Linked DNA regions of Homo sapiens. The protein of the gene in region 6 purifies or fractionates together with the protein of the main gene of each other region. This does not show direct contact. Each region holds a gene or a part of one and is shown on either strand. Other genes may lie near its edges. The genes, in order: ALPL, PPP1R12B, MYH11, FMNL2, CDH13, SIK2 and SHROOM3.

What was found.
Region 1: the proteins of SIK2 (region 6) and ALPL purify together in Homo sapiens (affinity purification with mass spectrometry, with the first as the bait; one large-scale study listed by BioGRID). This does not show direct contact.
Region 2: the proteins of SIK2 (region 6) and PPP1R12B purify together in Homo sapiens (affinity purification with mass spectrometry, with the first as the bait; one large-scale study listed by BioGRID). This does not show direct contact.
Region 3: the proteins of SIK2 (region 6) and MYH11 purify together in Homo sapiens (affinity purification with mass spectrometry, with the first as the bait; one large-scale study listed by BioGRID). This does not show direct contact.
Region 4: the proteins of SIK2 (region 6) and FMNL2 purify together in Homo sapiens (affinity purification with western blotting; one study listed by BioGRID). This does not show direct contact.
Region 5: the proteins of SIK2 (region 6) and CDH13 purify together in Homo sapiens (affinity purification with mass spectrometry, with the first as the bait; one large-scale study listed by BioGRID). This does not show direct contact.
Region 7: the proteins of SIK2 (region 6) and SHROOM3 purify together in Homo sapiens (affinity purification with mass spectrometry; one large-scale study listed by BioGRID and IntAct). This does not show direct contact.

The regions. Positions count from the first base shown.
Region 1 is NC_000001.11:21,511,973-21,515,922, reverse strand, and holds part of ALPL (alkaline phosphatase, tissue-nonspecific isozyme isoform 1 preproprotein), read right to left. Parts: intron 1-3,950. UniProt on the Homo sapiens protein: Alkaline phosphatase that metabolizes various phosphate compounds and plays a key role in skeletal mineralization and adaptive thermogenesis.
Region 2 is NC_000001.11:202,346,964-202,351,617, forward strand, and holds the start of PPP1R12B (protein phosphatase 1 regulatory subunit 12B), read left to right. Parts: upstream 1-1,735; 5' UTR 1,736-1,888; coding exon 1,889-2,179; intron 2,180-4,654. UniProt on the Homo sapiens protein: Regulates myosin phosphatase activity. Augments Ca(2+) sensitivity of the contractile apparatus.
Region 3 is NC_000016.10:15,850,173-15,854,122, forward strand, and holds part of MYH11 (myosin-11), read right to left. Parts: intron 1-3,950. UniProt on the Homo sapiens protein: Muscle contraction.
Region 4 is NC_000002.12:152,646,136-152,650,738, reverse strand, and holds the end of FMNL2 (formin-like protein 2), read right to left. Parts: intron 2,944-4,603; coding exon 2,834-2,943; 3' UTR 913-2,833; downstream 1-912. UniProt on the Homo sapiens protein: Plays a role in the regulation of cell morphology and cytoskeletal organization. Required in the cortical actin filament dynamics.
Region 5 is NC_000016.10:83,791,519-83,795,468, reverse strand, and holds part of CDH13 (cadherin-13 isoform 1 preproprotein), read right to left. Parts: intron 447-3,950; coding exon 439-446; 3' UTR 1-438.
Region 6 is NC_000011.10:111,608,715-111,612,664, reverse strand, and holds part of SIK2 (serine/threonine-protein kinase SIK2), read right to left. Parts: intron 1-3,950. UniProt on the Homo sapiens protein: Serine/threonine-protein kinase that plays a role in many biological processes such as fatty acid oxidation, autophagy, immune response or glucose metabolism.
Region 7 is NC_000004.12:76,756,312-76,760,261, forward strand, and holds part of SHROOM3 (protein Shroom3), read left to right. Parts: exon of another isoform or gene 1-137; coding exon 138-626; exon of another isoform or gene 627-777; intron 778-1,737; exon of another isoform or gene 1,738-2,281; intron 2,282-3,233; coding exon 3,234-3,384; intron 3,385-3,950. UniProt on the Homo sapiens protein: Controls cell shape changes in the neuroepithelium during neural tube closure. Induces apical constriction in epithelial cells by promoting the apical accumulation of F-actin and myosin II, and probably by bundling stress fibers.

The DNA.
Region 1 (3,950 bases), on a different chromosome or scaffold from region 6:
CAGCCTGGGCAACAGAGCCACTAGACCCTGTCTCAAAAAACAACAACAACAAAACAAACAAACAAAACAGACAAACAAACAAAAAAACAACAAGCCTGAGACACTTCAGTGACAGCCAGCAAGAGGCCTGAGAACGTCAGCCTGAGAGCTAAGTGGTACCCACCCTGTGGCTTTACTGACCTAGTAAAGGTGCACTAAAGAAGGCAAGAGGTTGACCCAACAAAAAGTCACTGGGGCCAGGTGTGGTGGCCCATGCCTGTAATCCCAGCACTTTGCGAGGCCGAGGAGGGTGGATCACCTGAGGTCAGGAGTTCAAGATCAACCTGGCCGACATGGCAAAACCATGTCTCTACTAAAAATACAAAAATTAGCTGGGTGTGGTGGCATGTGCCTGTAATCCCAGCTACATGGGAGGCTGAGGCAGGAGAATCTCTGGAACCCGGGAGGCGGAGGTTGTAGTGAGCCGAGATCACGCCACTGCACTCCAGCCTGGGGAACAGAGCGATACTCAGTCTAAAAAAGGGTCACCTGGTAGATCTTTTTAAAGGGTGCACTTGTGGGCCAGGCACAATGGTTCATGCCTATAATCTCAGCACTTTCAGGGGCCAAGGTGGGTAGACTTCTTGAACCCAGGCTGAGCAACATAGCAGGGCCCCATCTCTGCAAAAATAAAATAAAGGTCACACTTCTGGTTTTTCCAGTAAAAGCAATTTGCTTCAGCCACCTAAAAACTTTTTTAAAGAACATAAAATATTTGCTGAGCTCTGCCCAGCAGTTTGCAGACCTGGCCAGGTAAAGTTCATGCACCTGAATGACAAACTGAGCTCTGGAAGGATGAAGAAGCATCTCTGAAACAAGCTGGAGTGGAGGAGGAGGGGGTGGCTTAGAAAGTCTGGAGGGTCAGGGCCTCACTACAGGGTCTCCACGGCCTTATTTCCAGAAATGACCTTCCAGCCTGTCCTCTCCTCCCTTCCCTGGGTCAAAGCAGAGAGGCATAGAGACCTAGGGGAGGAGTAATCCTAAGGTGTCTGCCCTCTGAGCCTCAGTCTCCTTAACTGCAAAATGCTGGAGAGTAGGGGGTAGGTGAGTATCAAAGGTAATGTGCGAAAGTGCCTGGTACCCAATGGTGCTCACAAAATGCCACTTCCCACACAGGGCACATTTCTGAAGTCGTCTGCAGGTGTAAGGACCAGGGGATGTGAGGTTAGTATCAGCAATCGACAATCAATCAGTCTCCCTTGTCCATCTCATAACCCCTGGAGCAGTTGATTCGTGGAGACCTAGAATCTCACATCACAGCAGCTGCCTCCAGAGCCCCCCGCATGTAACCATCAGGCTTCACAGCCTCCTGTGCTACCCTCTGGCTCAGACATGGCGATTCTAAGATGCTTGCTGCAGCCACCATGGTACCTGCCTGTCATCACCAGGCCCTGGCTCCCAGCAAAGGGGGTGGAACAGAGAGCTGTGGGTTCAGAGTGCAAGATCGTGTTTCCTGTCTGAGAAGTGGTTATGCACTGATGCACAGGGCTGTTAGGGAGCACAGGGTGAAGTGGCGCACCAATGCACAGGGCTCTTGGGGAGCAAGGGGTAAGGTGGAAGCTGTCAAGGGAGTCTCTTCCCTGCAGGGGCTGTGCAATCTTTAGAATGAAGTACCCAGCGATGCCTGTCCCCAGCTAGACCCTGGGCTCAACTCGCTGAGCCTTGACAGGTAGATGCTCTATCACCCCCAAACCTCCAGAGCCCTCAGACTCTTCCTGAGGACCACCGAAGCAGGAAAAAAGCTCCTTCGCCTAGCTGACATGTTTTGTAGATGTTGCCAGGCTATGGAAGAGGGGCTAGTGTCCACGTGTCCCATATTCTCACCCTGAGCCCCCTGAGGGCTGGCCCAAGCCCCACACAATCATTCAAGTGGAATTTGAGCCCCTCTTACATGGCCTCACTGCATCTAGCCCAGAAACCGCAAGCTCAGAAGGTAGGTAGGTAATGTCAGGGAGGCAGGTGGGCAAGTGTGAGGCAGTGGGGCGTGGTGGAGACTGTGGTAAAGTGGATGGAGCAGCTGCTAATCAGCTCCAGCCACTGTGGCCAGGCAGGGACATAGCCCCATATGGCCACATCTTCTGATCTTTCAAGAGAAGCCAGAAATCCTTATCTTTATATAAAATGAAATTGCCTGGTTTAAAAACACCAGCAACTAAATAAAAGTTGTTTAATCACCGCAAAAGTCAACAATCCCCCACCCCCTGCAGCCTTAGGAAGGCAGTTTGTGATGGATCTCCCATAACCCAGCACACAGCAGGCTATAAATATCTGAGGACCAGTTGAATACATTAGACCCATTCCAAGTCTTAGGGAAGTCTCATCTCTCCACTCCTACTCCTCAGATATATTGGTTTACAGATGAAGAATCTGAGACTCAGACAGGGGAAGTGACTTGCCCAAGGTCACAGAGGTATTCAAGGACTTCAGCTCAGCTCTCCTGAGCTTAATATCTTTTTCCACCAACCCACATCATCTGCATCCTCCCTTAAACAATGATTTTCAAAAAACAGATATGCTAAGAATATACTGTAGAAATGAAACACACCAAATTCAGGAGAGTGGTTGCCTTTGGAAAGATCATGTAGCTTAAGGCCAGGAGACTGAATTCCCAGTCCACTCTGCCCTAAGCAATTGTGTGACCCTGGGCAAGCCTCTTCTCCTCTCTGGGCCTCAGTCTCCCTGGTGCACCAAGAGCCCAGTTGACCGAGCCAGCTTCTAAAGGCCTTCCAACTGAAATTCTGGGGATCTATGTCTCCTCTCTGGCCAGTACTCTGTGGCCTCAGATGAATACAAAATAGTAATAATAATAATAATAATAATAATAGAGAGGGCGAGTCCACACCAGCCAGGAAAGAACACTACGACTTTTTGTGAAACCTGACTCCTGGTTACTGGAATTCAGAAAGAACGATGGTAATACTTGAGCAGCTTAACCACCATCCTACAATTAAACAAAAGCACATCTGGTTTAACTTCGTCCTCATCTCCTCCCTAACCCCCTACTCTCATCTCAAATTTTACCCCTTAATTTGAGAAGTCAAATTCAATGCAAACAATTGATTTCATGCCACAGTGAGGCTGAGAATTTAAGCATGGAAAACTTTAAGCATAGAGTTTTTCTGGGAGCAATTAACGAAGTGTTGGCGGGGGGGTTGGGAGCTGGTACAAGGAGGCAGAAAAATACGGAGACTATGTTCTTCAGACACTGAGCATCATATCTTGATGTTGGGGGCCTCCTATGAGCTTGACACTCAGAGAGGTAAAGTGACTTGCCTCAGGTCACACAGCTGGCGATTGGAATCCAAGACACCAGCCCCCAAACCAGTGTTTTCCCTGCTGTGTAGGCTTTTGTGACCTAAACGTGGACTTCCCTCAGGCCCTCAGGATCACCTGGTAGGGATAAAGTTAACTGCTTTTGAAATTGCTCCACAGGAAATATGAATGTCTTAATAACATCAATGCTGGTTCAGCCCAAAGTTGGAAAACCATTTATGATCTTGCGACCCTGCAAAGTATATAATTTTAACCCATATTGCAGATGAGAAAACTGAGGCTTCGAAAGGGAAGGTGACTTGTCCAGGGTCGCATGGCAGTGCTGGGAATGAACCTTCAGTCTACTGCCCCTAACTGCCCTCTGAAAGTGAGGACATCTCCAGAAGAAAAAAAACAAATCTAACATACCACAAAGCCCAGCTCCAGCCTGCCAAGGACGACGACATGGTGCTGGGAAGCCAAGTCAGCATTCCTGTGGCCACATGGAGATTTCTGAGTGCTGGTTCTCAGCCCAGCTTGCTCACTCTCCCAGCAATGTTCTCTCAGAGCTCTGGGTTTTGTATTAAAAAGCCAAGTCAGACTGATTTCAAGGTGAGAACTCGGGCTCTGCTACTGGATCCTACTCCCTGGATTAAAAG
Region 2 (4,654 bases), on a different chromosome or scaffold from region 6:
GCAACATTTTTTAAATGAAAAATTTTAAACATACAGAAACGTTTAAAGAATCTAACATTTGCATATGTACTCTTTCATTATGGGTAACACATTTAATTGTATTTTGTTCAGGGCTAGAGCACTGGAGGTTATACTTATTAAATCAATCGGACTGGCCGGATGCGGTGGCTCATGCCTGTAATACCAACACTTTGGGAGACTGAGGTGGGTGGAACACTTGAGCCCAGGAGCTCAAGACTAGCCTGAGCAACATGGCAAAACCCTGTCTCTACAAAAAATACAAAAGTTAGCCAGGCATAGTGACACAGGCCTGTAGTCCCAGCTACTTGGGGGGCTGAGGTGGGAGGATCGCTTCAGCCTGGGAGGTTGAGGCTACAGTGATCCACGACCATGCCACTGCCCTCCAGCCTGGGTGACAGAGCGAGACCCTGTCTCAAACAAAACAAAACAAAACAAAACAATCGGACAGATACATGTTTTATAACCCAGTCTTGGTGAATATAAAAATGTTCTATTTGCTACCTTAGGAATTTAGTATGATTTAGTATGCTTGATAGTATCTTTCTCTAGCTTTGAAAAAAAAAATCATGGGACAGGTACAGTGGCTCAGGGCTGTAATACCAACACTTTGGGAGGCTGAGGCAGGAGGATCGCTTGTGTCTAAGAGTTCCAGACCAGCCTGGGCAACATGGTGAGACCTTGTCTCTACAAAAAAATAAAAAAATAGTGGGTGTGGTGGTGGGCACCTGTAGTCCTAGCTACTGGGGAGACTGAGGTGGGAGGATCGCTTGAGCCCAGGAGGTTGAGTCTGCAGTGAGCCGTGATTGCGCCATTGCACTCAGCCTGGGTGACAGAGTGAGACTCTGTCTCAAAAGAAAAGAAATAAAAATCATGGAAGACATCTATTCTGTCTTGTAAAAATTTAAGGTATATGAAAAGAGTAGAGGAGGAGGAGGAGGGAGAAGGAAGAGAAATTATTTATTGGGATCCAATATGTGCCAAAGATAGTATTAGGCATCCTTGCATGTATTATTTCATTTGATCCACATGACTACCCTGTGAGATGTTATTCCCATTTTACACATAAGAAAACTGGCTAAGAGAAGTCAAGTAATTTGTCTGCGGCTGTGAATTCAATTTAAATTCACAGCTTAAACTCTTTTCACTACATCTGAATGCATCATTTTCAAGATCTTTTCTGGGCCTGGAGTAAGTTGACAGTATTTATGTAAAACATGTAATACTGTATCTGTATGTATGCTCCTCTTCCCCACGCTCATTCACATTTACCGTGATTAATACACATGTTAATAAAACCCTAGACTTAGAACTAGGATATAGAATCCAGTCGTTTAGGTACTTAATGTTTAGTTCTCTCCTCCAGAAAACAGGAATAATTACCGCCTTTTTTCCACTCCAAAGAATTGATGTGATAATTAGGGAGATAAGATTAGTTACTAGTCATAACAAGAATAAACTACAACTCCCAAAATGCCCAGAGGAAGAGGCTGACGCCAGTCCAGGAGACAGTTCCAGCTTTAGGGCAAAGGTGACCCCACTGGGTCCCGTGGCGAAAGAGAGAGCCGCCGGTCCTCGCCTTTTTTCTGATGCATCCAGGGATTTGTAGTTCCCTTACGGCCACCAAGTGCACTTAGGGCAGGCCTCTTACTACGAGTCCCGTGATGACCCGAGGCCGGGCAGCGCCTGCGTATTGAAGCCGAGGGAGCGTGCGGGCGGTACTACTGGCGGGAGGAGTAAAGATGGCGGCGCGAGGGTCTCCGCCCTCTGCTCCGGGCTGAAGCGCTCTGAGAGAGGCGGCAGCGGCAACTCGAGCCCCAACAGTAATTTAGTGTTGGTAGTTTTGGCAGCAGCTGCCGAGGCCGGAGCAATGGCGGAACTGGAGCACCTAGGAGGGAAGCGGGCAGAGTCGGCGCGAATGCGGCGGGCAGAGCAGCTTCGGCGCTGGCGGGGCTCGCTGACAGAGCAGGAGCCTGCGGAGCGACGAGGCGCGGGGCGGCAGCCGCTGACCAGGCGCGGGAGCCCCAGGGTCCGCTTCGAGGACGGTGCTGTCTTTCTGGCCGCCTGCTCTAGCGGGGACACCGACGAGGTGAGAAAGCTTCTGGCAAGAGGTGCTGATATCAACACGGTCAACGTGGACGGCTTGACAGCCCTGCACCAGGTAACTCCTTTCTTGGTCTTAGAGGCGTCCAGTCTCCTACAGATGAGCCTTTGACCCTGCGAGCCACCCCATGGGGAGTATCAGTGTTGCCGCCGACTCCTTCTGCATGGACACTGCCCTTTTGGGCTAATCGGTTTCATTCTTGGCCAGCTTCCTCCACTAATCAAGTCTTTTTCTGACCCCAGGGTCTTAGGAATAGCGTCACCCCGCTGCTTGGTCAGTGTTTGTATTTCCCTCCACCTACTTGTGTTGTCATGGTTACTGGTGATTTTTGTCCCTGGTCTTATCCCTGTAGATTAGTTATCTTCACTTATGTCTGGTTGGCGTGCCTGCACACCGCGTCACTCATAGGCACAGTGTCATTTGTTTGATGCCCTTTCAGAAAATTCAGTTGTTGTGTGTCCCCGTTATAGAATATCTTATATCACTTAAAGAGTAAAGCCCTTTACTGGGTAAAGACAAGCAGGTCTGAAACCACACCTCTTGTTTTGTTGATTTGTAGTACTTCAAAACAGTTTGTGTTGCCTCTAGGCTACAGCTCCTAGAACACGCTGGACCTCGTTGTTTTAGGTATCTTAACTTCCTTCTCAGCAGTGCTACCTCCCTGAGAGCTTCCTATGGAGAACTAAGTTACTGAATTACCTCTGTTTGATACTTATGGAATAGCTTTTCTATTTTTCTATTTTTTTTTCTAAAGTGCTCTATAGAAATCCCATGCCCCATGTATAGCTATACTATATGGATTGTGGATAATCTGTGCTTGGTAACGACACCTTTACTTCTGTCACCTAATGCAGCAATATTCTCTGTCTACTGACTGCCATGACTAACTACCCCTCTCTCCTCAAATGGAACTTCATCAGTTATTTTGGTGAGCTGAGAGCCGGACACCCACTCTTAATCTTTTGTATTTTTCTTCTTCTGCCGTCTGTGCAAAGTGAATGTATTGGCATGAGAATCTACTTCTAAATAATAACTCAACTTTATATCAGACCACTTCCCTAAATATATTTAGCCAATAGCTTAAAAAGTTACTTCTCACTATGTTTGCAACCCTTCTATTTCAGGTAGAAGAAACTCTTTCACCCTATTTTGTACCCATTTTTTTTTCCTGCTGATAATATTTCCCCACCTGAGGTAGTAACCAATATTTGTAGAGTGCTTTGCTGTTTGATTTCATATGTCTTACCCCATGTGAGTTTCAGCAGTGATCCTTTGAAGTAGGTGTGGCAGGTAGTGTTGTTATTCTCATTTTACAGATGAGGAAACTGAAGCTCAGGAAAATTATTTGTGCAAAGTTAGAAAGTAAAGAAGTGGCCCATAGGCATGGATTTTTCAGACTTATGTCACAGAGATCTCTATCTCACTTAATAAGGAGCTGAATGTAAAATGAGATAAAAGCTAAGAGAACCACATTAAATTCTAAACTTTAAATTTCTGAACTCTTTGGGAAGGTGAATTCTTGTTTTTCTTTTTCTTTTTCTTTTTTTTTTTTTGATTCAGAGTCTCGCTCTGTTGCCCAGGCTGGAGTGCAATGGCGAGATCTTGGCTCACTGCAACCTCTGCCTCTTGGTTTCAAGCGATTCTCCTGCCTCAGCCTCCCGAGTAGCTGGGATTACAGGCGCCTGCCACCACGCCTAGATAATATTTGTATTTTTAGTAGAGATGGGCTTTCACCATGATGACCAGGCTGGTCTCAAACTCCTGACCTCAGGAGATCCACCCTCCTTGGCCTCCCAAACTGCTGGGATTATAGGCATGAGCCGCTGTGCCTGGCCTAGTAATCTATTGAAATAAGAGAAGAAGGGGATGACAGCTATGGATTTTTTTTTAACATCTATAAATGCAATATAAGCATTCCTTTCCATTTATAGGGCTGACAAGGAGTTGAACTGAACAAGTATACTCGATTCTAGACAAATTCAGCTAAAAATTAAGCTGCTTAAAGATTTGAGGTCTGTTGAGAAACTGTATCTTTGAATCAAGACAACGGGCCTTTATTGGCTTCAGAACATTACAAGTCAGTTTCCGAAGAGTTACAATGTGTGTCTCCATGACTTGGAGAAGTTTTTGTTGTTGTTGTTGTTGTTGTTGTTGTTTAAAAAAAAAAAAAACAGTGTCTCACTGTATCTCCCAGGCTGGAGTACAGTGGTGCAGTCTCAGCTCACTGCATGCAACCTCCGTCTCCCAAGTTCAAGCTATTCTCATGCATCAGCCTCCCAAGTAGCTGGAACTATAGGTGCCCACCACCATGCCCAGCTAATTTTTGTATTTTTAGTAGGGATGGGGTTTCGCCATGTTGGCCAGGCTGGTCTCAAACTCTTGGCCTCAAATGATCTGCCTGCCTCGGCCTCCCAAAGTGCTGGGATTACAGGCATGAGCCACCGCGCATGGCCGACCTGGAGAACTCCTAAGGTACATAAAAGACTATTTTCAAATGGGAGACTGGAGCTGTTGGTAGCTGAACCACCTACT
Region 3 (3,950 bases), on a different chromosome or scaffold from region 6:
TCAGTAGTTCAAGACCAGCCTGGCCAACATGGTGAAACCCCGTCTCTACTAAAAATACAAAAAATAGCCAGGTGTGGTGGTGGGCGCCTGTAATACCAGCTACTCAGGAGGCTGAGGAAGGAGAATCGCTTGAACCCAGGAGGTGGAGGGTGCAGTGAGCTGAGATCCCATCACTGCACTCCAGCCTGGGCGACAAGAGCAAAACTCTGTCTTGAAAATAAATAAATAAATAGTAAATTAAATATCCCAGAGCCCAGAGAGTATAGGATTTGCACATCACCTCACCTGGTCAACAGCTTCCCTCAGGATTTTACTGCCAAGCCATTGGCTAAAGATTTTGGACCAGAGACAAAAACCCAAATGTTTTTGGAGATCAGGTAAGTAATACAGAGTGACCCAGACCAGATGTTAGAGTATTGCTTATATTCTAAATACCATGCAGGGTTCAGCACTGTGGCTCACGTCTGTAATCCCAACACTGGGAGGCCAAGGCAGGCAGTTCGCTTGAGCTTAGGAGTTTGACACCAGCCTGCGCAACATGGTGAAACCCCATCTCTACAGAAAATACAAAAATTAGCCAGGCATGGCAGCACATGCCGGTAGTCCCAGCTACTCGGGAGGCTGAGGTGGGAAGATCGCTTGAGCCTGGGAGGTAGAGGTTGCAGTGAGCCAAGATCATGCCACTGCACTCTAGCCTGGGTGACAGAGTGAGACTCCATCTCAAAAAGAAAAAAAAGAAAAAAGAAAAATTGCTCATATTCTAAATGTCATAAAGGGCTGGATACAGTGGTTCACACCTGTAATCCAAGAACTATGGGAGGCCAAGCCAAGAGGATTGCTTGAATTAGGAGCTCTAGACTAGCCTGGGCAGCACAGTGAGATCCCATCTCTATTTCAAATAAACGAATGAATGAATGCCACACAGGCAAAACAGAAGTTCTCTGAACCTGATCTGCAACACAATTCGCCAGCTGGAAGGACCTCTGCAGTGGAAATCCTCGCTCAAGGCCTGGTCCAGGTGTAGGGAGGCATCAAATGTGTCGCAGGGAGAGGCACTGGGCACTCTAAATGCACCTGCTTGGCAGGTCCCCAGTAGTACCAAAAAGGCAGTTTAGATCTATTATTCATAACAGCCACTGTATTTATTGGGCCCCTTGTATTCATCAGGTATCAGGCCAGACAGCTTCCTATATAGACCATCTCACTGTCTCCTAAGCGCTCTGTAAGGTGGCATCACCTGCTATTGCTATTTTCCTGCTAAGATGACCGAGGTCCTGGAAGGTAAATGCAAGACCCCCACTTGTAAAATTTGGAGTCAGGAGTACAATCCAGAATCTAATCCTAGTTTTCTGCTAAGAGTAAATGGACACCCGATTAATTCTTAGCAGAAAGTCCCTTTCTTGCCCCTGACCCTACTCCACCATTTCTACCCTCCCCTCACCATTCACATCCCCCCACCTCCCAAGGGCTTGTTCCCAAGAAAGCCCTACTTCACTTTTACAGGAAAAAAAGTGAATGGTGAACCTGTCACATTCTTATTGCCTTGTGACATCTGCCTAATCATCTGAATACCAATGGTTTCAAGTAACTCCAGAAAGAAGTTCTCTTAATGCATAACACTATTTTTTCCTCCCAACCAAGAGAACTTGGTTGGCAAGAGTTACGGTAGCCCCTGTGAAGGATGCTTCTGGAAGCGAGCAAGAACTGATTATTTCTGGCCCTAAAAGCCCCACTGTGTTTTATATTTTACAATTCTGGCATACCACAGCTTAAAATAAATGTATAGTCTCCTATGTCAGGGGTCCCCAACCCTTGTGCTGCAGTATCAGTCAATGGCCTGTTAGGAACCAGGCCACATAGCAGGAGGGGACGGTGGGTGAGTGACCATCACTGCCTAAGCTCCGCCTCCTGTCAGATAAGCAGCATTAGATTTTCACAGAAGCACAAACCCTATTGCCAACTCCACCTGCAAGGGATCTAGGTTGTACGTTCCTTATGAGAATCTAACCAATGCCTGATGATGAGGTGGGACAGTTTCATCCCAAAACCATCCTCCCCACTCCACCCTGGAAAATATTGTCTTCCACGAAACCAGTCTCTGGTGCCAAGAGGATGGGGACTGCTGTCATATGTGACTGCAACAAGTTGCAATTTGCAATGCCTTTTTTTTTTTTTTTTTGAGACCGAGTCTCACTCTTTGCCCAGGCTGGAGTGCAGTGGTGTGATCTCGGCTCAATGCAACCTCTGCCTCTGAGGCTCAAGCGATTCTCGTGCCTCAGCCTCCCGAGTAGCTGGGATTACAGGTGCCCACGACCATGCCCAGATAATTTTTGTATTTTTAGTAGAGATAGGGTTTAGCAGAGACCATGTTGGCCAGGCTGGTCTTGAACTCCTGACCTCAGGTGACCCACCTGCTGCGGCCTCCCAAAGTGCTGGGATTACAGGCGTGAGCCACTGCACCTGGTCTGCAATGTCTTTAGCCAGTCATTTGCAATATCTATTAATTTTAGATACGCATGCCCTTTAACTCAGCAAGCGCATTTCTGGGAATTTATCCTACAGATAAATTCATATAATTAGACAAAAAGTCCAAGGATGAAAGAGTGGCATTATCTATTATTCCCATTTTCCTGCTAAGCCTATCGGGGTCTTGAAAGGTAAATGCAAGGCCCTCCCTTGCAAAAGTTGGGGAACCAGGATTAGAATCCCGATCTGTTTGAAGCCTAATTTACTCAGAGATGGCATTAGCGATGTTTGACACATCTGAATATGTCAGCCCTATTCACAGTCCTGTCCTAACAACTCACTGCTTCATCCCTTGAGCACAAACAAGCTATTCATTAGCCTGTGGAAGATCCTTAGGTCTTCGAGTTACAAGTCTCAGCTCTGCCCAAAACTCGCTGGGTGATGCTAGGCAAGTCACTTGCCCTCTCTGGGCCTTGTATTTTTCAGCCTGGTACAGTAAAGTTCTATGCCCCTCACCTTTTTTTTGAGACAGAGTCTCACTCTGTTGCCCAGGCTAGAGAACAGTGATGCAATCAGGGCCCACGGCAGCCTTGAACTCCTGGGCTCAAGCAATCCTCCTGCCTCACTCAACCTCCTGAATAACTAGGACTACAGATGCATGCCACCATGCCCAGCTCATTTTAAAAATTTTTTTGTAGAGATGGTGCCTCGCTATGTTGCCCACTCTGGTCTCAAACTCCTGACTTCAAGCCATCCCCCCACCTCAGCCTCCCAAATTGCTGGGATTACAGGTATGACCTGCCATACCTGGCCTCTATGGCCCTTTCCTAGCAACTTTGATGAGGTTGTTCCTCCTTAGCCCCTGAAACCCTGATACAAGTCACAGATGTCCGACCTCCCCTTTCAGCCACTGTGAGCAGCTTCTTCCTCTGTCCTTGGATCACATACAAGGTTTCTTTCAAATTCTTGCCTGCCTTTCTCTAAATTCAGTCTTTCCTCCATTGTGTGGCCAGGGTTAAAAGTTGAAAGGTCAGGAGTGGAAGGAGAAGACCTAGAGAGCAAAAAGGCCATCCCTTAAAGTATGCCATCAAGACCCTAAATAAGCCAGGCGCGGTGGCTCACGCCTGTAATCTGAGCACTTTGGGAGACCAAGCCAGGCGAATCACTTGAGGTCAGCGGTTCGAGACCAGCCTGGCCAATATGGTGAAACCCCATCTCTACTAAAAATACAAAAAATTAGCCAGGCATGGTGGTGGGCGCCTATAAACCCAGCTACTCTCTACTCAGGAGGCTGAGGCTGGAGAAGTGCCTGAACCTAGGAGGCGGAGGTTGCAGTGAGCCAAGATCGCACCACTGCACTCCAGCCTGGGCGACAGAGCAAGACTCTGTCTCAAAAACAAACAAACAAAACCCTAAACAAATGTAATTGGAATTTGTAACATTCCCAATCCAGGTAAGGAATGGTAGCTTAATATATTAAAGAT
Region 4 (4,603 bases), on a different chromosome or scaffold from region 6:
TAGGCACCAGTCTGATGGTAAAACAAAAGTAGAGATCCTTACTGATCGCAAGACTTTTTCTCTCATAAAATAAAGCTTCTAACACATTGTATAACTGGTTTAGTGGAAAGTGCACTGAATTGCGAACAAAAGACCTAAGGCTTTATTATAGGCATTTATTAGATTGCACCCTGGGCAAGTCAGTTTGCTGAGTCAGTTTCCCAATGTGCACAACAGTGTTAAATACCTCACAGGCTTCTTGTGAGGAATAAAGATTATTGCCTTTAATCTGTAAGCAGTTGTGTGTGACAAATGCAAAGTACGCTGTGGTAGTTGTGACAATAATTATATAAATTATAATTCCTTAAATGACTATAATATATATGCCTCTAAATTTAAGCCACTTGAAAGGTATTCTAAAATTTAAAATTTTTCTTGTTTCCATAAAAAGAACATATGAAATGTTACACATAAACTTTTGATGACTGGGAGTTTTATTACAACTGTTTGTGCAATGGGGGCCAAACTGCTTGTTTGCCTTGCCAACTGGTATGGTTATTGGGTGCAGGGTTAACTATGCAGTTAATATATAGCCTATTATCTTTATTTGTACAACATCCTAATTGTAACATTTGGTGGGGCTGCTGGGGGCGTTGTGGCATTTCACCAAACAAAGGTGCTGTTTACCTAGAAGGTGTATGTTTATAAATGCAATTTTGGAGATGTAGTCTCACTTCCAAGATCCATTGTCTATGTTTTATATAGCAAGCGGTCAAGAGTTCACATAGGGAGGAATCCTTCCTGACGTTTACCAAGTATATTTGGATTCTGAGTTCAAATAGCAAGATATATTTGTTTCTAGAAGGTAAGTCTACATAATATTGCTAAAACCCCCTAAATTGTACCATTGAAAGATTACAACATATTACAGAATAGTAGTGTAAATAGTTTATTATTTGCTCATATGCCATGAAAAGACCAGAAAAGTAACATGAATTGCTTTTATAAAACATTCTAATATTGCTAAGAAGCAGGCCCATTAATAGACAAACAGAAAAGAACATGCCAACGTTGTCTATTTGTAGATTAATAAATAGGCAATTATTTTAATATACATATATGTCAGCATTGAACTTTGGAAAACAGCTGCTTTGTAGTGGAAGTCCAACTTGGTCAAATTGCTATTTTTAATCGAAGTGAATGTTGAGTCCACAGAAAGACAAAATCGTGGCATGTTCTTTTTAAAGTAAAGTACACATTTATGGGAATGTGCCCGCAGGTGGCAGTTTAATCTTTCTGTAAATAGGTACACTAAAGTGAAATGTGGTAGGTAACTTGTTCCCTAAACTGTCCTTATAGTTAAATATATATATTAAAAAAAACTATAAGTTAAAATAACATTCAGATTGTATAGCATAGGCTGATGCATTTTAAAACAATATTTACAATATTACCCAGAGGCTTAGGTGGGAATTAAAGAGAAGTGTAAAAACCATAAAAAACTGCACCGATTTTATAGCAAAATATCTGTACATTTAAAAAGATCATATAACTACACATCCAAGGAAAAGGGACCTTCACCAAGGGGTTCACATAAGCACAACATAAAATAGGAACTTCAGCGGTTAAATACTATACAATAAACTTTACAATTAATATATTGATGTACCAAGAAGATAAGCCAGAAGCAGAATGTATATTATGAAAAGTACAAATTTAGCTTCAGTCCAGTTTTTGACTTTGGAATGGATCAAGTGCCCTGCCAGAGAGGAAGGAAAATAACAGTGGCTTAGTGGGCCATCTAGTCCCATTACGTATTATTTAAGCTTAATACCATGTTAATACTTTTCAGCAACTTAAACTGCAATTCTCCATAAGTAGTCTGGGAAATGCATGAAAAACTTAGCCTCGATACACGATGCCAAGTGTATCTTCTTGAATTTATAAAAAATAAGAAAAAATTGCGATTGTCAGAGGAGAGTAAGGCCAGGTTCCTAACACTACTCTGCTAGCAGATGTAACCTTGAATGCTTGTTGATAGAGCTAGTAAACTTCCTTGCAAGGCACCAATTTCTGTTCTCAGAATTAATAATGGTCCTCAGAAATGCTAATGCTGATTACTGAGATGTTAATTTTAATGCTAATAAATACACTTGCATTATTTAAAAAGCTGCCTCTAGCTGAAGAACACAGTACTGCAAATAAGTCTTATACACTATATCCCCACATTCATACTAGTGAATGCCTCTCACAGAGCATCGTTCTCTAGCGCAGAAGTAGTAGAATGTGAAACTGGAAACAAAGGATTGAGTGACCTTTGTGCCACTGCAGTTGCATCCTGTTTGCACTTTGCCAGGGCCTGGTTATAGACAAAAGGAGTTTCATCATGTGACTTTCCTTCTTCCAAATTGCAAGTAAAATACAAAGTTGATGGATATGGCTAAAACAAAATTCCTTCGAAGACATCTCAGCAAAGGACCCACAGCAGATGCATTGATGTTATTTACAACATCAGGAAACCAGGTGGGCCATGATGGGACAATCACAATGGCAGGTAATGAGTTTAATAAGAACTTTACATTTTGGTTAAAAATAACATACTGGTGTAAAAAGATACCTAATCAAATCAAATCCTATTGCTTTGATTAATCTGAACAGGTACTTCCATTTTTAGGCACTTGTTAACAAGGGTTGAAAGGAGAGCTCATTTTAAAATTCTTCCGTGTTTGCTAAATCTGAGCCCTTAAGAATATTTTTGTGTGTGTTCAAGGCTGCAGTTAAATCGTAGCACATAAAGTTCATGTGGGCAGTTTCATTCACGCACACCCTGTATTCATGCAGGCCAGTCTCAGGTTCACATTGTTATTTCGGCACCATTAACAGAACGCAAGTTCTGATCATCAAAGCGCCGCCTGACGCTTCTCCTCACCGCATCGGCTCGTCTGTATGGTTGGTTTCTAAGATCTGTAAAGGGGAGAGTGCCAGTGAGAGAATAGCAACCTTTAATAGCATGTGTCTAAGCAGGACAAAGGCCAGCTGGCAGCCAATCAAAGCAGCTTGTGTAGAAAAGTCAGCTAATGGGCCCTTCAAACTCACTGAGCATTGAATCAAAGACATAAAACATTTGCCTTCAATATTTACAATCAAACAAAACAGGATGTAATACTGGTAGGATTCTAGGACTTTGAGAGAAAAATACATAGATTATTTCTGTCACTGGCCAGAGTCTAGCTGAAGTCTTATTTTGAAATGTTTCTTAAATTAGAAGCAGCTGTAGCTTAATTTTTTTGTTTTGTTTTTATTCTGGAAGCCTGAATGAATAAATAGTAACTGCAATAAATTTTAAACTGCAAAATTAATAAAGCAGACTGTCCTGTCCCATCTTTTCCTCGCAGTTTTAACAAGAACCTAAAGACCTTCAGTTTGCAGATAAGGGCTCTATTATTTTCATTCCATTAAGCTAGCTGAGTTTATTATTTTGTAAATTTTAAACAAAATGATGTTCAATTAACCATTAAATCTAAACCAAAATAATAATCTATTCCCTGGCATCCTTTTCTGCCACCTATTTTTTTTAAGAAATGGGGTCTTGTTATGTTGTCCAGGCCAGACTTGAACCAGTCTCAAGCGATTCTCCCACCTCAGCCTCCTGAGAAGTGGGGACTACCGAGCTCTACCACCCAATATTTTTTATGTTACGTCAGCAAGAAGTAGTTGTGTGGGCCCTCCTGCATAAGAAAATCCTTGTTAAATGAATGAGTCAATCACTGCATACCAGTCCAAATAGGCATTGCTCTGTCAGGATGAAGTGGGAGGAGCAGAGGAATTTTATACAAGAACTCAGTATGAAGGCATGCTTTCTTGAGTAAGTCAGGTAGCTAGCCAGCAGGCTAGGCTATGCAGCCTCCCTTTGATGAAGTCAGGGCATAGTGAAAAAAGTAAAGCAGGCTTTATACTTTTCCTGTTTAATTAGTATTTACTTCCCTTTCATTAACTTAGTATTGTTGACTTCTGCTAGAATACATGCTATCTTTAGAAAGGGAAATACAAACAAATAACAGAATTAAACCAAATTGAATCTTTTGTATCCCTTTATCTACTCAACAAGTTGAAAATGCAGCTGATGGACCACATTTGACCCACAGAATGTTTGCTCCACTGTGCCCCCCCACCCCCCGCACATGTACAGTTTCCTGGTGTTTAAATTGGTAATTAACATAAAGACCAGGGTTTCTGGCTTCTTTTGAAAAACTGGAAGATCTGGCAAAACCGGGCCCCAGTTCCTACACAGCAAAAAGAAGTTGGAGCTAAGATCTGTGCTCTAGGTTCAGCACAGTTCCTACCAGGCCTGTTACCTTCCTGGCTCCTTGACTCATTGGAATTTGTGTGACCCTGCCCTACTCTTTTCTGGGGGGGTGGGCGGGGGTTGTGAGGGGAGGACAGTCTCTGTCACTGAGGCTCGAGTGTAGTGGTGATCTCTGCTCACTGCAGCATCCACCTCCTGGGCTCAAGGGATCCACACATCTCAGCGTCCCAGGTAGCTGGGCTACAGGCATTTGCCACCATGCCTGGCTAACTTTGTTTGTTTGTTTTTTTTTTTTTGTAGAGATGGGGATTTTGCTTC
Region 5 (3,950 bases), on a different chromosome or scaffold from region 6:
AGAATGGCATCAAAACGAGGCTTCTCCAGGATAGTCTCTCTCTATAAATACCGTGTATATATACATACAGATACTCATACATACACCAATACTAACCCACAGACAAAGCTGGGTGCCTGGAGCACTGGCTAGCGACATGTTAACACACCAGAAAAAGTAGTCATTGTTCCTGCTCCCAGAAGATCAAGTCATATGTCATGATCTTTAAACATTCAGGGAAAATTCAGAAGATTCCATTAATTAAAGGAGGGAGGAAGATGCTGTCAAAATGATGAAGTACAGACTAAGTGAAATTGTAAAGAAAATAAAAAACCGGAACAATTGAGGCCTAGTTGTGAAGTTCGATAGCTGTAAACCGCAATCTTCAGATTTGGATAGATTTTTTTTTTTCCTGTTGCTATGGAAACTTGGGAGTCAAGCTTCAGACGTCAGGAGTTCTCACAGACCTGAATAGAGAGGGTTCAGAGTTAAGTCGGGAATATCACCACTCAATTCAAAACATTTTAGCTAAAAGCCAGAAAAATGACAGGCAAGGTATAATAAACACATTTTAAACATCACACGACTATGGGGGAATTTTTTTTTTCCTTAAGGATCACATTGGAAGACAGAATGAATGGTTATATGGTAAAAAGCTGGACTTCTCTGAAAATGCTAATGGTGACTTCAGATGCCAAACATCGCTCAGACCGAGAGCTGCTATTACCACCGTTACCAATGAGCCTTATGTCTTTGTCTCTCAGCACAGAGCTTGGCTATTTTATGAGCATGCTATGTATCTTAGAGATTGGTGATTATCCCATATATGTATCGACTTCCTGTGACTATATATATATATATATGTTGACTTAAGGATCACAAGTCACAGAGCAAGATACCTATTGGTGGTTCTTCAAACATGATATGTTTTTATTTTGAGACAGGGTCTCATTCTGTTGCCCCAGCTGGAGTGTAGTGGTACAATCTTGGCTCACTGCAACCCCTGCCTCCTGGGCTCAAGCGATCCTCCCACCTTAGTCTCCGGAGGAGCTGGGACTACAGGCATGCACCGCCATGCCTGGCTAATTTTTGCATTTTTTATAGAGATGGAGTTTCGCCATGTTGTCCAGGCTGTTCTTGAACTCCTGGCCTCAAGCGATCCTCCCATCTTGGCCTCCCAAAGTGCTGGGGGTTATAGGCTCACCTGTGAGCCACTGCACCTGGCCCAAACATGGTATGTTAATTTCCTGTTGCTCCTGTAACAAATGGCCATAAAGTGCAAACAACACGAATCTATTCTCTTACAGTTCTGGAAGTCAGAAGACTGAGCTCAGTCTTATGGGGCTCAAATCAGTGTTGACCAGGCTGTGCTCCTTCTGGAGGCTCTAGGAAAGCATCCGTTCCCTTGCCTTTCCTGGCCTCTAAGGGTTGCCTGCATCCCTTGGCTCATGGCCCCTTCCTTCATCTTCAGAGGCAGCACTGCAGCATCTTCTCTTTTTCACCTCTGACCTCCCTCTGTTTCTGTCATCACATGGTCTGTTTCTAATCGACTCTTCCTTTGTCCCTCTTATAAGGACTCTGTGATTATATCAGGCTCACCTGGCTAATCCAAGATACTCTCCCCATCTCAAAATCCTTCACTGAGTCACATCTGAGAAATTTTTTTTTTTTTTTTTTAGAGACAGAGTCTCACTTTGTTGCTCAGGCTGGAGTGCATTGGCACAATCTTGGCTCCCTGCAACCTCCGCCTCCCAGGTTTGAGCGATTCTTTTGCCTCAGCCTCCTGAGTATCTGGGATGACAGGTGCCTGCCCGAAGTCTCTTTTGCCATATAAGGTAACATGTTTACAGGTTCCAGGGATTAGGATGAAGAGTACATCTTTGGGGGCCATTACTCAGCCAATCACGAAAGTAGCATTGTGTTCCCAGAGGAAAAAAGGCATCTCATGGCAGACTGTGTTGCAGACTTTGAGAACGTCACTCATGTAGAAAACTTCACAGAAAGAGACATCAGCATAGTGTGCGTTCAAGAGCCTGTCTTCCCAGCACCTGCTCGTGGCTCCTCCTTATGGCCAGCTGCGGGGCTGGCTCCAGTGTGGAGTCTGTCACTCTGCTCAACTCAGCAATGTTGGCTGGGAGAGGCTCTGGCTCTAGGATGCTCAGATCCGGTTTCAAAATGAGGCGTGTTTTTGCCTGCATTTTTCTTTTGTTGCCACCTTACTCCTCGCAAGCACGTTTTGTCTGTGCAATTCCAGCAGAGGCGTGAATTCCAGCCCAGGACTAAGAGTTCATAAAATTGAGTAAACTACTGTGTCTACAGTAATAGTTGGCAAAGCCCTTCCTCACTCTCAGGCTTCTGTTACAGTCTTGCTCCATCAAAAGAAGGAAAAAAGAAAGAAATTAATCAGTATACATGTGCTGTGTACTCATTTTTCTGACCTTTGTTCTCACTCCTACTGATACCCTAGTCCTGCCTCCATCCAAAAGTGCCCACTGAAGACAGGCTGCCCTCTGCTAAGAACTTCAGATGTTTTGAGGCACTCTTTTCATTTTTACCATGATTAGGTTTCATTTTTACAATGATTAGGTTTCATTTTTACAATGATTACACTTATACCCCATGCTGCAAGACAGTTATAAAATATGAACTATTTTTGCAAAAGCCTATTAGAAAGAATGTTAAGATGTTGTTTTGGGTTGGATACATATTCCTCTTTCTTGTTTTAAATGGGCAAAAGCCATTGATGTTGTCAGGGTGGTAGAATGTCTCCACTTTCTGTGTCTAATTTTGGTTAGAGAGCAGAGTGGGGTTTCTCAGCCTCAGCACTACTGACATTTGGGGTTGGATAATTCTTTGTGGGGGGTGCTGTCCTGTGTATGGGAGGACGCTTAGCAGCACCCTTACCCTCCATCCACTAGATGCCACTAGTGGCGTCCTGCCAGGCATAATAATCAAAATGTCTCTAGACATTTCAACTGTCTCCTGGGAGGCAAATTAGTTAAAAGCAAGAACAACAACAACAACAAGAAACATCTTTGGCTGCATAAAATCCACTAAATAGGCTCCAATCTCTTGTTTTCAAATTAGAGTCTCAAATTCCTGTTTTAAGTCAATTTAGATGATAACATAAGTGACTCGTCCCAGGGCTATTGAGATGGTTACTTGAGGAAATTTATTTAATTTATGTAAAGCCCTTAGCTTGCATGCGCAAGGTGCATGGAAAGCCCCCAAGGATCAACTGTCATTGTCCATAATGTCATGTCACTTTAAGGGGCCACAGCTCCTCTGCAAAGCATGACCGCGGCCGTCTGCAGGCCGAAGACAGCCCACTCTACCTGGGTTTAATGCCTTTGCAGGCCGTGTCTGTCCATAATACGTTTCGCAATAGAAAGGAACAAAATACTGGTACACTTTAAGACATTCTAGAAAAGACAAAGCCATTATTAGAGAAAGCAGATCAATGAGAGCCTGGATTGCGGAAAGGGGATCAATAGCAAAGGAAACTGTATTTTGACTAGGGCGTGGTATAAAATTCTGTACACTTACCAAAATGCATCAAACTGTACACTTGCAACGGATGCATTTTGTTTTATGCAAACAATACGTTGAAAAATAAAATTTTAAAAGTGTTTACTGGCTATCTTTTGCTCATCTTGGCTTTTTTTTTTTTTTTTTTTTGGAGACAAAGTCTTGCTCTGTTGCCCAGGCTGGAGTGCAATGGCGCAGTCTTGGCTCACTGCAACCTCCAACTCCTGGGTTCAAGCGATTCTCCTGCCTCAGCCTCCTGAGTAGCTGGGATTATAGGCGTGTGCCACCACACCCAGCTAATTTTTGTATTTTTAGTAGAGATGGGGTTTCACCACGTTGGTCAGGCTGATCTTGAACTCCTGACCTTGTGATCCGCCCACCTCGGCCTCCCAAAGTGCTGGGATTACAGGTATGAGCCACCCCACCCAGCCAGGCATGCATAT
Region 6 (3,950 bases):
CTGAAGGCGGTCTCCATTCCAGCTAGACAGAAGGAAAAAAGAACTCTGAGGGATCTTCATGGGTGATTTTATGGGCCAGGGCTGGAAGTGGTGCCTATTACTTCTGTTCATTCCATTAGTTAGAACTCCGCATATGACCACACCTAAATGCAAGGGTGGCATAGAAACAGTCCAGCTGTAGGCCCAGAAAGAAGAGGAAACAGCAGAGTTTTCAATGATCAGCTAGCAGTCTGCCAAACTCATCCAAGTAATTTCTTAACAATGGAGCTCTCTATCAAGTACTTCCCAGAAATATGTATAATACTAACAATGGTGATGACTTTCACAACTGCACAGCATTTTTAAAGATACTTCAGCATATTTTATCTCATTTATTTCCCAATTCTGTGAAGTAAATGAAACAAGCAGTACACTCATGAGTTGAAACTGAGGTTCAAATAATGTCACATAATCAACAAAGGTCTTAAAGCTCTAATGAATTAAGGAAGAAAAACCCTAGGCCTTCTAACTCCAACTTTAATCTTTTCACTATTTCAAAGGGTCTTGTAGTAATACATTACACAGCATCTGTTGTGTGCCAGGAATTATGCCTGGGATATAAAAATGAATGAGATTTGATTCCTACCCTCAACAATTTAATAGGTATGTAAGAAGAAGATGAACACATTTTACCAACAAAAAAAAAAGTATTTGGGGATTTCCCCAAAGGTGCACTGAAAGTCCTTAATTTGCAAAAGGGTTGTGTTCCAATAGTTCCTTTTAAGGATTAGAATGAACTTAGATTTCTGGGAACTTCCTCTCTATATCCCTTCTCTTATTTAGTTCTCAACATAGTATAAGAGACAAAATCTGCATGGTAACAAGAAAGTAGGTCAAGAAAGGAACTCCACGAATGGAAAGATCCCCTTTTTTGGTGGTGTTCATCTATTCAACTCTCTAATCATTATATATACATTATCTTAAAAAAACTTTCAATAAATTTATATGACAGAAAAATGAATACTCCTTCTACTAAAGGACTGAATAAAGGTTTCCTGTATAAACTGAAGAACATTAGGACAAACTAGAATGATTACTATCAAACTAAATCCCACATAAAGTAGCAACATTGAATATTCAACTTCAAAATACTCAGGGAAATATGAATTAAAAACAAAATACCATTTTCACTTATTATATTTATAAAGATTAAAAAATAAATAACCTGGTCAGCTAAAGTTCAGTGAGATGTTTGTTTCAGATAGTTAGTAGGAATATAAAATAGATTATAATTTTTCTGGGAAGCAATTTAGTAGTCTTTATTATGAACCTTAAAAATCATCCATTCCATGTAGCTTAAGGACTCTTCTGAGAAGTTATTTGAAGGAAATAATCTGAAATGAGGACAAAGATTTATGTGTAGTTTTTTTTTTTTTTGAGACAGGGTCTCACTCTGTTGCCTGGGCTGGAGTGCACTGGCGCGATCTCAGCTCACTGCAACCTCTGCCTCCCAGGCTCAAATGATCCTCCCACCTCAGCCTCCCAAGAAGCTGGGACTACAGGTGTGCACACACACACACACACACACACACACACACATTTGGTCGAGAGTGGGTTTCACCATGTTGCCCAGGCTGGTCTCAAACTCCTAGGCTCAAGTAATCCTCTTGCCTTGGCCTCCAAAAAGTATGGGATTACTGGTGTGAGCCACCTCACCCAGCCTTATGTGTACATATAATCAATAGAGTATTAGAAAACTGAGATATCAGTGCAGTCTCAGCATAAGGTATGAGTAGAAAAAGATGACAAAAAACTGCTTTGTACTTTTCTGTGCAATTTTTCTTCAGTGAACATGTATTATTTTTCTAATAAGAAAAAACCCAGAACAATGACAGTTATTTATCATATACTAATTCTCTGAGATATATTAGTTTTCATTTTCTCATTTTCAAAATTCTTTAGAAAATGGCTATATTATTTTATGATTTAAATATTAAGAAGACCATATATACAGAAATGTTTCTAACAATGTGAAATTTTAAAAAACACTATGAAAGTAACAACTATGTAAAATACAAATTTTATACAGGAGGACAAAGAATTAAATGTAAGAGCAGAAATGTAAAAAGTGTTAAACTGATGAATAAATGGAATTTTTTCATTTTTCAAACTGTTTGTTATCTTTTTTTTTTTTTTTTTAGACAGAGTCTTGCTCTGTCACTGCTGGAGTGCAGTGGTGCGATCTCAGCTCAGTGCAACCTCTGCCTCCAGGGTTCAAAGTGATTCTCCTGCCTCAGCCTCCCAAGTAGCTGGGATTACAGGCATGCACCACCACGCCAGGCTAATTTCTGTATTTTTAGTAGAGATGGGGTTTCACCATGTTGGCCAGGCTGGTCTCAAACTCGTCACCTCAAGCAATCCACCCGCCTCGGCCCCCCAAAGTGCTGGGATTACAGGCGTGAGCTACCATGCCTGGCCTATCCTGTCTCTTTGATTTTAGAAAAACAAATTAACTTCTCATAAAAGAAATACTAATCTCATTTAAAGAAACCACATATACAAAAGTTGCTTTTGGGTTCTATAAATCCACAGATTAAAGCCAAAAAAAGTAGCTTTTGGAGATTTTATAAAGAAGTTACAAATAAGAGCTATTCTTCTAATAACAAATTACAAGGGATTAACATGTGTTTCTTGTCTTAGATAATATTTACTCCAGTCCTATTACTAATATACTAATTCTACACTGTCCTTCTGAAGTACCAAGTAACATTAGCTCTATCATACCATACATTAGACCTTTGAAATTAAAAAATAAATACAACTTTCAGCTTATACAACAAATCATTGGTGGAATTACAACCTACTAGCCTATCATTTGATTGAAAAGCAAGTGTGATTGAGTGGTCTATAATGAAAGACTTTCTGAAAGCAGTAAAAGTCAGTAGTAAAATAGAGAATTCTCTAGTTACCCTCTCAGAATAAATAAAAAGGAGACTTTTTTCCAATGTAAATTTGGCTTTTAAAATTATTCAAATAATAAATTCTCATTAGGATTTAATTTGAAGGCTGGGTATGGTGGCTTATGCCTGTAATCCCAGCACTTTGGGAGGCCAAGGTGGGAGGGCTGTTTGAGCCAAGGAGTTCAAGAACAGCTTGGGCAACATGGCAAAACCTTGTCTTTACAAAAAATTTAAAAATTAGCCAGGCATGGTGGTGTGCACCTGTAGTTCCAGCTACTTGGAAGGCTGAAGTGGGAAGATCACTTGAGCCTGGGAGGTGGAGGCTGCAGTGAGGTGTAATCTCGCAACTGTACTCCAGCCTGGGTGACAGAGTGAGACCCTGTCCCCCCCCCAAAAAAAAAATTGATTTGACTTTTATAATAGTGGGTAGGAAAAACAGATTGGGGGAAAAGGTAAATGGTCCGATAGTTATATACTCACAAAAATTAAACTGAGAATTTTTAAGATGATTAAAGAAGTGATTAAAAATAATCCCCTATCTTAAAAAGTATTTAAACAAATCAACAAAAAAGACAATGCAATTAAATGGGTCAAAGGACAAAAAAATTTATAAAAGGAATGCAAATCATCATCATATAAAACTGTACAAAGTAATTAAAGAAATGCAAATTGAAGTAACAAAATGTAAACATGTATTTGTTAATTAAAAATAAAAATAGAAAAAAATTTAAAAGTAATGAAGAATATTATTTTCTGCTATCAAGTTGGCAGAGATTTAGAAAATAATATTCCTGCAAAATATGAGTTCTTCCTGGTGAAAATTAACGGGTACTCCTTTTCTGGAGGGTAATTTGGCATCCTACACCGTAAGATAGGTAATGTACATACTCCTTGACCCAAGAATTCCATTGCTAGGCAATTACACTGAGGAAATAATTAGATACATGCACAAAGATGTATGTAGAGGGATGCCCTCTGAAACATTATTTTAGAAAGAGAGACAGGAAGATG
Region 7 (3,950 bases), on a different chromosome or scaffold from region 6:
GAAGATGTGGAAAGCTACAGCCCTGATGTGGAAAGCTTCTCCCTCAGTCTTTCTCCACCCTCTTATCATCACCCTTCTCTTATCACTCTCTCTTTCTCTCTCTCTCTTTTTTTTTTTTTTTTAAATATCCCTGGCAGCTTCAACAAACTTTCTAAAGTGACAATTGCAAGGGAAAGGCACATGCCTGGTGCAGCCCATGTGGTAGGTAGTCAGACACTGGCTTCCAGACTCCAAACTTCTATCAAGGGTTCAGAGGCTGAGTCCACACCACCCTCCTTCATGAGCGTTCACGCCCAACTTGCTGGGTCTCTTGGTGGGCAGCCAGCACCCATCCAGACTCAAAGCCTCAGCCATGATCCAGTCAGTGGAACTCAGGGTTTAGAAAAGAAAGTCAGTCCTGATCCTCAGAAGAGTTCAGAAGACATCAGAACAGAGGCTTTGGCCAAGGAAATTGTCCACCAAGACAAATCTCTAGCAGACATTTTGGATCCAGACTCCAGGCTGAAGACAACAATGGACCTGATGGAAGGTTTGTTTCCCCGAGATGTGAACTTGCTGAAGGAAAACAGTGTAAAGAGGAAGGCCATACAGAGAACTGTCAGCTCTTCAGGATGTGAAGGCAAGAGGTAAGTCCCTGGTGATGTCCTCAGAGAGACTTACAATCACACTCCTTCCATGGGGATGATGATAAGTCTAGGACTAGTTGCCTGATGTTCTCCTACTGCCACAGCTCCTGAACCAAGAGTGACATTTTATCTCAGTCTTGGAGGAATGGCTCTGGCAGTGAGGATGTGGGACAGATATGCAACAACAAAGAAAGTAATAGTAATAATTATAATAATTGCCATTAGTACCCATTGTTAACGTTGTGTGTCAAACATTGTATTAATTTATTTATATCAACATTATTTAATTTTCACAAGAACTTTCTGAGGTGGCTACCAATTTTACCTCCATTTACAAATGAGGAAACTGAAGTACAGAGGAATTAAGACCATGCTCACCAAGGTCATTGAACATGTGAGTGATGGCACCTGGATTTGATCACAGCCCCATGACTGTGCCTGTCTCCAGCAATTACACAGTGCCCCCAGCTCAGCAAAGGTGTACTTGCCGGTTCTGTATCAGAGCTGCTCTGGCAGAGAGGCCCTCAGAGCTCGGTGCTGGGAAAGGAGCAAGTGGAAGTGGTGAGCGTGGCCAACGTCTTGCCAAGACTGAGAGGGGAAGGGCTTTGTAAGGAGGAGAGCCTAGAGAAATAGATTCGTGTACTACACTGACCCTTACCTCTGAGGCATTAAGGTGGGTGTTGGCGCAAATCCTGAAAATCAGGAAAGGTCTGAGTAGGAGCGCACTGTCTGGTTTGGCCCAGTCCGTGAGCCTCTGCTTCTGAAGCTCCTTGAGCCAGCCATGTAACACGTGTCCCAGTGTGCAGTCTGTGCTTTTCATTTCTCCTGGGTTACTGCAGTATTTTCTTGCATGTTTTATTTCCTTAAAAGACTACTATGAGAAAGACTGAGTAGCTTTCATTTTCTCTTAAATTTTCAGTGAAATCTTTGTGGATTGACAGTCTGGGACTCAGCAGTTAGTGGCTTCCAGACTAAATAAAAACAGAACATTTTATCCAAATTTGGGATTGCATTTTAAAAATTTCCAACTGATCCTAACTAAATTACTAACAGGAACACCACGTTTCATTTTATGGGGGAGAGAGAAAGGAAAGAGCTATGTGATACTTACAAGCTATTTGTCACATTGTCAGAGGCTCTTCTGATTCAAGGCCTTAACTGTCACCTTGTCCATTTCACTGCTTTTATTTTCAGATTTGGGAAACAGACTAATTGAGGTGAAGTGATTTATCCAGGGTCATGTCTTTAGCAAACACATACTGAGCACCTACAATGTGCAAGGCAATCCACTGGGTACTATGGGGACCCCAAAGATAAGATTTTTGTAGGTGTGCCAGTCAGTTCACCATGGGTGGTTGCAGTATGGTCATTCTGTTCTCTGACCACTGGCTGAAGGACCAAAGTAACATCCTTAGCAAAGTATTTCCTAGCATTACCACTGGAAATATATGTTTGCTCCGTCAGTTTAGAAGCAGAATGGTCATGGAGCTTTTGCAGCACTGAGACCTTCCTGGGGATTTAAAAAAAAAAAAAAAAAGGCATGCGCCATCTCCTGGTGGAAATAAGCATTGTCCTGTTGGGCATGAGATGGCCAGTAGCCATTGTGAGGGTTGGTCAGATGCCAGAGAATCCCATTTGTAATGCGGTGGACATATCTGAAAACAAAAACAAACAAAAATGTATCAGAAAATCTTTTCCCTGTCTTTCAATTAACTGGATTAAATGTGGTCATTGTTGCTTACTGGGACAGTTATCAAGCAGGAAACTAGTAAAGATGATTTTTTGTGTGTGTGGTTCCTAATTTCATAGTAAAATGATGGGCTAGATGTTAAATAATATCACAAGATTAAATAAAGTTCCTCTCCAAGAGAATCGTACTTCCATAGAGTCATTTATTCAGTGGGTAGGATATGAATTATAGGCTGAAAGGCAACTCAAATGTGGTAAAACAGAGAACTACTAGATAGCAGGTTTCTCAATTCTGAGTTTTTTCTTCAGCCTTAAAACATCCCTATTATATTATCAATGAGTAGATTTTATATCTTGTATTAGTTCACTGCGGACCAGCAAACTGCAGATTTCCCAGGATTATATGGGATAGCAGGCACACTTGAGAAGGAAAAATTTTGTGTGTTCAAGCAACAGTGCATAGTAGGCACTAGAAAGATTACATGTAACCAAAGGAGTATAGGAAATAATTGACCTAAAACCTGAGGTTTGTGCAGCACCTTGAAAATACTTTCACATTGATTGAGTCATGGTTCCACACTGCCTTTCTCTGAAATAAGGAGTCAGTGTCGTTCTTATATGAATCACAAAAGCAGAGAGGTTAAATGTCTTCTCCAGAGTCAGCTGGCGAGGCCATAGCCTTGACTCCCACTGTCATCCCTAATGCTGCTTTTGGTGGTTTTCCATCCCAAGTTTGCCTGGCTTCAACAGCCCTGTACATAGTAATCACTCATTAGTTAACAGTTACTAGTTTATCCTAATTTCTGGGAAAGAAATTAAATAGAATTGTTACGCACTTCTGAATGGACTGACATCTGCAGTGAAACAAAGCCTCTGGCGTGATCTGTGTGGCTATACTTTGTGCTCTTTTTGGCCCAGGAATGAAGACAAGGAAGCAGTGAGCATGTTGGTTAACTGCCCTGCCTACTACAGTGTGTCTGCTCCCAAGGCTGAGCTACTGAACAAAATCAAAGAGATGCCAGCAGAAGTGAATGAGGAAGAGGAACAGGCAGATGTCAATGAAAAGAAGGTAAATAAAGAATGGGATGCCCTTGTTCAGCTTTCCTCAGAAAAATTGACAAGGTCCATGTAATCAGCGTGGTGACTGGGCCTCTTGAGGCAGGTGGGGAAAGGACCTGTCACATCACCAGATTGCACCAAAATCATTAGACTTTGGATTTACATGGCACTTTAACTAATTTCCTCTTAGCTTTTCTGTGAGTAGGCAGGGCAGGTAAGCTACTGTACTTTTCGTTTTTACAAATAACAGAAGTGAAGCTTAGAGGGATTATTAGAAGTCTCATAGCCAGGACTTGAACCCAAGTCCCTAGCCTCCTAATCCAGCACCAGGACCCCGACACTGTTCTCAGCTGCTGGTTGGCCAGTGCCAACGGTGTGTGTAATTTTCTTGTTTCATAGTCAAAAGGAAAATTTTAAAATCTAGAAACTTTTTTTAGGGAAGGAGGCCAATTGTTAAATGACACTTCTGAGAAAAAGTAATATTAACCTTTATATCTTCCCCAGCCCTTTTTGAGGGACTTCAGCGAATAGCTTGAAAGTGCAGTGCTGGAATCTAGTTGTTAGCATTTGATACTC